Homo sapiens: one gene and its partner. The protein of the gene in region 1 purifies or fractionates together with the protein of each later gene. This does not show direct contact. Each region holds a gene or a part of one and is shown on either strand. Other genes may lie near its edges.

What was found. The genes of interacting proteins can lie anywhere in the genome.
Region 2: the proteins of CRB1 (region 1) and MIB1 purify together in Homo sapiens (affinity purification with western blotting, with the first as the bait; one study listed by BioGRID). This does not show direct contact.

The regions. Positions count from the first base shown.
Region 1 is NC_000001.11:197,421,733-197,425,324, reverse strand, and holds part of CRB1 (protein crumbs homolog 1 isoform 1 precursor), read right to left. Parts: coding exon 3,369-3,592; intron 1-3,368. UniProt on the Homo sapiens protein: Plays a role in photoreceptor morphogenesis in the retina. May maintain cell polarization and adhesion.
Region 2 is NC_000018.10:21,862,748-21,866,339, forward strand, and holds part of MIB1 (E3 ubiquitin-protein ligase MIB1), read left to right. Parts: intron 1-1,778; coding exon 1,779-1,919; 3' UTR 1,920-3,592. UniProt on the Homo sapiens protein: E3 ubiquitin-protein ligase that mediates ubiquitination of Delta receptors, which act as ligands of Notch proteins.

The DNA.
Region 1 (3,592 bases):
AGGAACATTGCATTTTGAATCTGCATTTGGAGACCACCTGCTCCAGGCAACTACCGGTAGCTTTCAAAAGTGTACTGTTAGATAAAATAACCCCTTTGAAGAGGTTAACATCTCTGAATACACTGCAGCACTTTCATATGAGATAAAATGCTTAATAAGAAAATTTGGCCCTTGAAGCCCCTGAGGTTTGAAGATATGCCCAGAATCACTCAACCTCAGGGGTAGCGGGGTGCCTGCTGGTCATCCCAGGATGCCTTCAGCATCACTTTGTGGATCTGGATTAAAAGCCAAAATGCAGAGTATTTTTTTTTCTCAGAAGCCTGATTCTTCAGCAATCCTATTTCTCAGAAATCACAAGCAACTAATCAGCATGTGTGATTTGCTACATGACTTTAGAAACACCTGAAGACATATGACTTGGCTGTGGATTTGGAAGGGTGATACTCATACAAGTGGTTGACATGTCATGAAGAGGAACAACACATACAGATAAAAAACAATTTTGGCAAGCTTTAATGATTGATGGAATACAACAAGATGAAATTTAACAAGAATAAATAAGAGCCACTTCGATCTAAATGTGCGTTTATAAGATTAGAGTGGGAGAAACAGGACTATGTGGCATCATGAGTGACAATGATACAAAGTGACGCAATCACGAAGTGTGGCTGCCAAAAAGTCAATGTTGTATTAAGCTGAAAAACAGAAGCACATTATCTAGAATAAGGGAGGTTATGGCCCTGTGTGTCACTGTATCATCCAGCACATACAGACATCACATCTTAGAAGGAATACAAAGAAGCAAATATATTCCAAAACCTGCAAGCAGCTGATGAAGTGTCGGAAAACTATGTCATATGGCAAACATTAGAAGAAACAGGATGTTTAGCCTGAATAGAAGTGATGGTTTAGATGGCTCGAGATACTTTTCTTCAGATATTAAGTATTCTCAAGCAGCAGGCAAGTTGAGATTTTTATTTGCATGTGTTCCAGAAATGCAACAAGGTCAATGAAGGAAAGCTACGGGCAAATCCTATTCTATTTCAATATAAGGAAATAACTTTTGGGCAATTTTTGGCAAGATGGAGTGAGTGATCTCTCTATTTGTGAAGGTGTTTGAGCAGAGATTTGAGCCACTACATTTGGCAGGTACAATTGTGTTAAAAATTCAGTCATAGAATGAATCTTTTTCTATATCTAGGAAACTATAATTCTAAGAGAATAAAATTCTCAAAATCTAGGTATATGGCTGAAAAGAAGAGATATGTAAATTGCTTTTGTAAGTCAAATGTTCACCAGAGAGCAAGAGGTAGGTGATGCCATTTATTCTGAGTAGTAGTATCTTGAATGCTGCATGTTCTTACAAACAGTCAACACAAGATATGCTGAGAGAACCTTATGGACACTTCTGTGACCTAAGCTTAGTTAAATCCTTTTCAGCACTCTTTCTGTTGAGAAATTAGATTATTTAAAAAAGATCAACCTTGATACATTGGAAATCACTATGTCTTTTGTGTTTAGTCAGCCACCAAAATCCTCTATCCAGTCTCCTTGTTCATTAAAATGTATACCATGGTTGGAAAACATTGAGCCAAATATGAGTGCAAGTCATGAATGGGCTGAAGTTTGCCTTTGTGCTTTTTAGTATGTCTCCTCCCTCTTGCACGTATATGTACAGTAGCAGAAAGACTCCATGTTCTCATTACCACTTAAAAGCAGTTTTTAGTGGGAATAAACTCTCCAGGAAACATTCCTTCAAGATAACAGAAAATACAGAATATTTTAATTTTATAATGAAGAGGTGATATGAAAAATATAATTTTCCTTAAATTTATACCAAGAATTTTCAGAAAGAAAAGATTTCACAGAACTCTCTCTGTCTGTAAAGTGATCTTTTGAAGTCAAATATTTTCTTGAGGGTTAAGCAGTTTCAAATAATGTTGGAGTATAAGGAAACTGGGAGAAGTGGGGGAAGGGTAACCAATTCAGGAACTTGGTTTGAAAAGTTCATGGTTTTCCAAGTTGGATAAAATAAAGAAAACCAGAACCCAGTGGATTGGCATCTCTTGAATCTATTTACTAGGACAGTTAACATCACCATGGTCAGTATTAACCTCATGGGTCACTGCATCTGGAAGCCAGTCAAAATGAGTCAGCATCTGTTTGTTATTTTGTATATGTAGTAAAAATATTGCCTTAGGTCAATTAAATTTTTCTTCAAAAAGTGAACATTGCCTCAGCATAATTTCCCTTTTTCTCCTTAAAAAAAATCACAAAACAACTTGCCATTCTACTTAAAATATTACGTAGAGCTAGTAGATACCATACTTCATTGTCAAACAGGTCCGTGATTTGTAATGAATATTGTGGTCGGGGGAAACCCTTGAGTAGTTTCTAATAATTCTTAGACATTTGAACATGGAATAGAGTATAGGCTAAGACTGGTTTTAATTTTACTTCATATAAAGCAGAGAAGACTACTTACCAGATGTTGTCCTACTTCAAGTTACTCTAAAATCTTGGGGTAAATTACAGCTGAACTTCAAAGCAGTCCGTTACAATTACCTCTCAGACTTTTTCAATGTATGATAATAATAATAAAAAGAAACAGGTATATATTGATCACTATCAACAGCAATCTCTAGAACAATGTTGGAAGTTAAGGATTTTGAAATACTTTGCAAACTGTGGTTTACTAGAGAAATTAGATCAATTAGTTTATGGCATCTACCAAGTTCTACTATTGTTACTTTCCACATTTTTTTTTCTTTTTTTTTTTTCTTAAGACACCTAGTATATTATCTGTCTTCTCCAGGGCAACCTTGGAAAAGATACCTTTGAATAAAATTGGCGTTTTATAAAAACGCTATGCTTAATTATGATTGTGGAGCAAGTGTGAATTGCATGGAAAGGAGAGCAAGGAAATGAATATTTACCGAGAATTTACTATGCACAAGATATCATGCTAGTATGTGGCACTGACAAATTTTATGTCTAAGGTTTTTTTTTTTCAAAAGATTATTTCTCTTTCAAATAAGATTTACAATAAATTTCTGATATGTGACCAATGGTAAAATTGCAGTAGCATTTTGCAAACACAAAGATGAAAACCTCTTTGGAAAAGAGCTATCTGCTTATTTTTTTTACTTCTCTGTATGAGTGAAACTGATGTCCTATGAATCCACTCAAAATTAATTAACGCACATCACTGCCCTCTTCTTTTCTTTCTCATCAGTGGGCAACCAGCAGCAGAAGTCTTGTGGGGTCATTATGTTTCATAGCAGGCAGAAGCAGTCTGGCTGTTTTTGCTGTTTCTGCTCTGCTCTGAGGCATGGCACTCCTAGCCATAGCACTCAGCTTTCTCTCACCTCTCAGACAGTTGGGGCCTTCATAGGGCCTGTGGCAGTCACACTGGTAACTCAGCCACAAGTTGATGCAGCGTCCTCTGCTTTGACAAGGTTGGCTTTCACACCAATCCTTTCTCACACAGCCTGCCTTGACATTTAATGATGAGCCAGACGAGATGTTCTCCAGGGTAATGTGATTCCAATCAATTTTAATGTCTTGGAGACAGCCTACAAACGAAGGTGTG
Region 2 (3,592 bases), on another chromosome or scaffold:
TTCCAAGTGGGAATGATACCAGGACTGAGATTGTATCCTATCTAAGCATAGTGCCTGACAAGTGTTCTCAGCTACTTCTCAGCACTGCTCCCCACCCTGCACCATGTATTGCATGATACATTGCCTTCTTTTTATGCAAGAGCAGCTGAGTACCTAGATTCAGGGAATTTCAGTTAGACTGAATGGAGCTATTTTCATCCATTTCCTATTACGTTTTGGTTTATATAGGTTTTTTTGTTTGTTTGTTTTGAGACAGAGTCCTTGCTCTGTCGCCCAGGCTGGAGAGCAGTTGATGCAGGATTTTTCTCAACCCCTTTGTCATACTTGCGACAGAGGTGCGCTGCTTACTTGGCCACTGTGCTCAACTGTTTGCGGGAGGGAGCACATGAACGAGCAATTGCAGGATCCATGCAGCGGCACCCAGGTGGGGGTGCCTGCGACTCCAAAGCCCCTGAGGGCATGTTAGAGTGCTCTCTTAGTTCTGCCGTCCACGGACAGCGGTGTGTTATCAGCTCAGTTGGCCCCTTGCCTCATAGTGTGGGGTAGCTGCCCTCCGCCAGTGAGGGCAAAGGGCCAGTGTAACAGCCTTATTTTGGGTACCCACACTCGGTGTGTCCCGAGCTCTTGTCCAGTGTTCAAGAAGAATGAGGTCACCTGGACACTTGAAGGATGGTGAAGGCAGAGAGTTTTATTAAGTGATGGAAATGGCTCTCAGCAGAGAGGGGAACTGGAGTGGGGGTGGGACGGGTAGGTAATCTTCCCCTGAAGTCCGGCCATCTCTTCCCTGAAGTTAAGCCATCTCTCCTCCGAAGTCCAGTCATCCCTTTGAAGTCAAGTTGCCTCTCTCCCCTCTACTACCTGGGTCTGGAGTCTTTAAAGGCACAACATGGGAGGAGTGGGCAGGGTGGGCTGTGGGTAGTTTTGGAAAAGGCAACAATCGATTGGTAAAAAGACATTATTTAGAAAGAACCAGTTGGGCTGGGCGTGGTGGCTCATGCCTGTAATCCCAGCACTTTGGGAGGCTGAGGTGGGCAGATCACGAGGTCAGAAGATCAAGACCATCCTGACCAACATGGTGAAACCCCATCTCTACTAAAAATACAAAAAAATTAGCTGGGTGTGGTGGTGCGCACCTGTAGTCCCAGCTACTCAGGAGGCTGAGGCAGTAGAATCACTTGAATCCAGGAGGCGGAGGTTGCAGTGAGCCGAGATTGCGCCACTGCACTCCAGCCTGGCGACAGAGTGAGACTCCATCTCAAAAAAAAAGAAAGAAAGAACCAATTGGGAGAGAGTGGGCAAGCAGGAATAGAAGTTCTCACTTTGGCCTGTGGGTTTCAGGCTTTTCAGCTCAAAGGTTGGGTTTCACTGGGGACCCACCCTTGTCTGCCTAGAATTTCTCTGCCTCCTGCCTCTATCACAGCGGCGCGATCTTGGCTTACTGCAATCTCTGCTGCCCGCGTTCAAGTGATTCTCGCGCCTCAGCCTCTTGAGTAGCTGGGATTACAGGTGTGAGCCAGGGTGTCTGGCTGTGTTTTATATATTAATAGTTTTTAATCTTATGTAGTACCTTTCATACTATCCTGATAGTACAACCAGTGTTTCTATTTTATTTTATAGGGATGACATTTTAACTATTTAAAAATGTTAAAAAATTGTTTTTAAAAACCACCAAAATATTATTTGACTAAAACAACTAAAGAAAATTAATGATATATAACAGTCTGTCACTTTCCAAATATAAAGTGTCTAATTTATTACTTTGTTATCTCACATTACAGACAATGTGCCCTGTGTGTCTAGATCGTCTGAAGAATATGATTTTCCTTTGTGGTCACGGAACCTGTCAACTCTGTGGAGACCGCATGAGTGAATGTCCTATCTGTCGCAAGGCTATTGAACGAAGGATTCTTTTGTATTAACTAAGACACATGGTGTATTTTGTTAGCTAATGTATCTAGTCATGAGATCTTAATAGGCTTTTGATCTAGTTGGAAGTTCTGATGAGTTAATTTCTAATATCATAGTTTCTTTACTAGAGTATAATTGGGCTGTAAATGTACCAGAACAAAAAACCCTACAAAATGGTGTTGGAAATTGTGTTTTTTGTTTTTGTTTTAAATTTGAAACATCAAATTCATGTAACTCATAGGATAATTTACCTTTGGCTTCTAAGAGGAAAGTCCTTTAAGGATATCCTTTTTTAAAAAATTGCATTTTTCTCTTATAATTTGTAAATTTGTTGGATCTCAAAAGACATAATTCTTTGTGATCAGTTATCCTTCATTTCATCGTGGTTTTACACAGTGAGTTGATAACAGGTTCTCTGAGAAGTCATGCATCAAATAAAAGAGGCAGGTCAAACAATTATGTCACATGGTAAATTATAAAATGACAGTACAAGTTCCAGATAGTTAAGGGAATACCGAAGGGATGATTCTTTTTTTAAGATAACAGGAAGTTACCCACATGTTTGTTTCTGAATTCTTAGAGTAAATGGAAGCATAGAATGAGGGAATAATGACTTTGCATTTCTCTTGTTTTCTAGATTCAAAAGGAACATTGTTTAACTTGAATCAGATTACCAGTTTCAAGGTGACTGATAGACAAGAAAAGGAAAAATAAGCAATAATAGTGGGCAACTGAAGAGAAAAAAAAAACGAGTATCTATTAACTGGCCACTAACAGTTGCCTTTCTTACATTAATTTATACACTATTTTGTTCAGCCAGTGTTTTTAAAAAAAATCTATGAAAAGTGTACTTCCGGTTTTCTGTGATTACTTATCTGGGCTTGATCTGACCAGTGAAATGACATTGCCCTATTTGGACCTCTGAGGTTCTATTTAGCTTTGCAGATGTACATAGTATCCCAGTGATCTGCAAAATTAATGCCTTTTCCAAGAAAAAATCTTTTCTTCTCTGTATCAGTTAATTCTGACAGTGTTAGTGATTCTGTCTTCATTATAGGCCTTATTTCCATTATCTCTTTCTTTATAGTATTTTTTGTTATAAAGAAAACAGTCTTTCTGTGTATACCTACGGATGAGGGTATTATTTAAACTGCCAACAATATCCAAGACATGGTCAATAACCTAATTATAAATACTTTAGAAAGAGTGACCAGGACATGTATAGAAATGTCTGCTTACCTGTAGACTTTAAAAACAAACAAAATTTTTGGAGCATTTAATCATTTTTTTTCTCCTTTTATCTCCTTTGTAATCTTATTGTCTCCTGAGTAAATATACACATAAATGTTTGGGGATTCATTGCTGCTAGATTATATCAGGTGTTTACATAGTGTCTACTATATGCTGTTGATAAGCTTTTTCCTAAAAATAGTTATCCTCTTTTGTAGTTTTTTTCCCTCCTTTAAATCTGGCTAGCTTTTCTTACTTCAGTTTTTATAGAACACCAACTAAATTTGAAAGTATGAAGTCTCTAGCCCTCTTACACTGTTTCTGGCTGTTTAATCCTTGCTGCCTTTGCAAGTCCTGGTGAAAGCAATGGGGAGCTTTGCTGGCTGGTTTTGTAGTCTCAACAATTCCATGTCTGTGTTTAGCTGAGTAACTGCTATCATTTAGAACAGTAAAA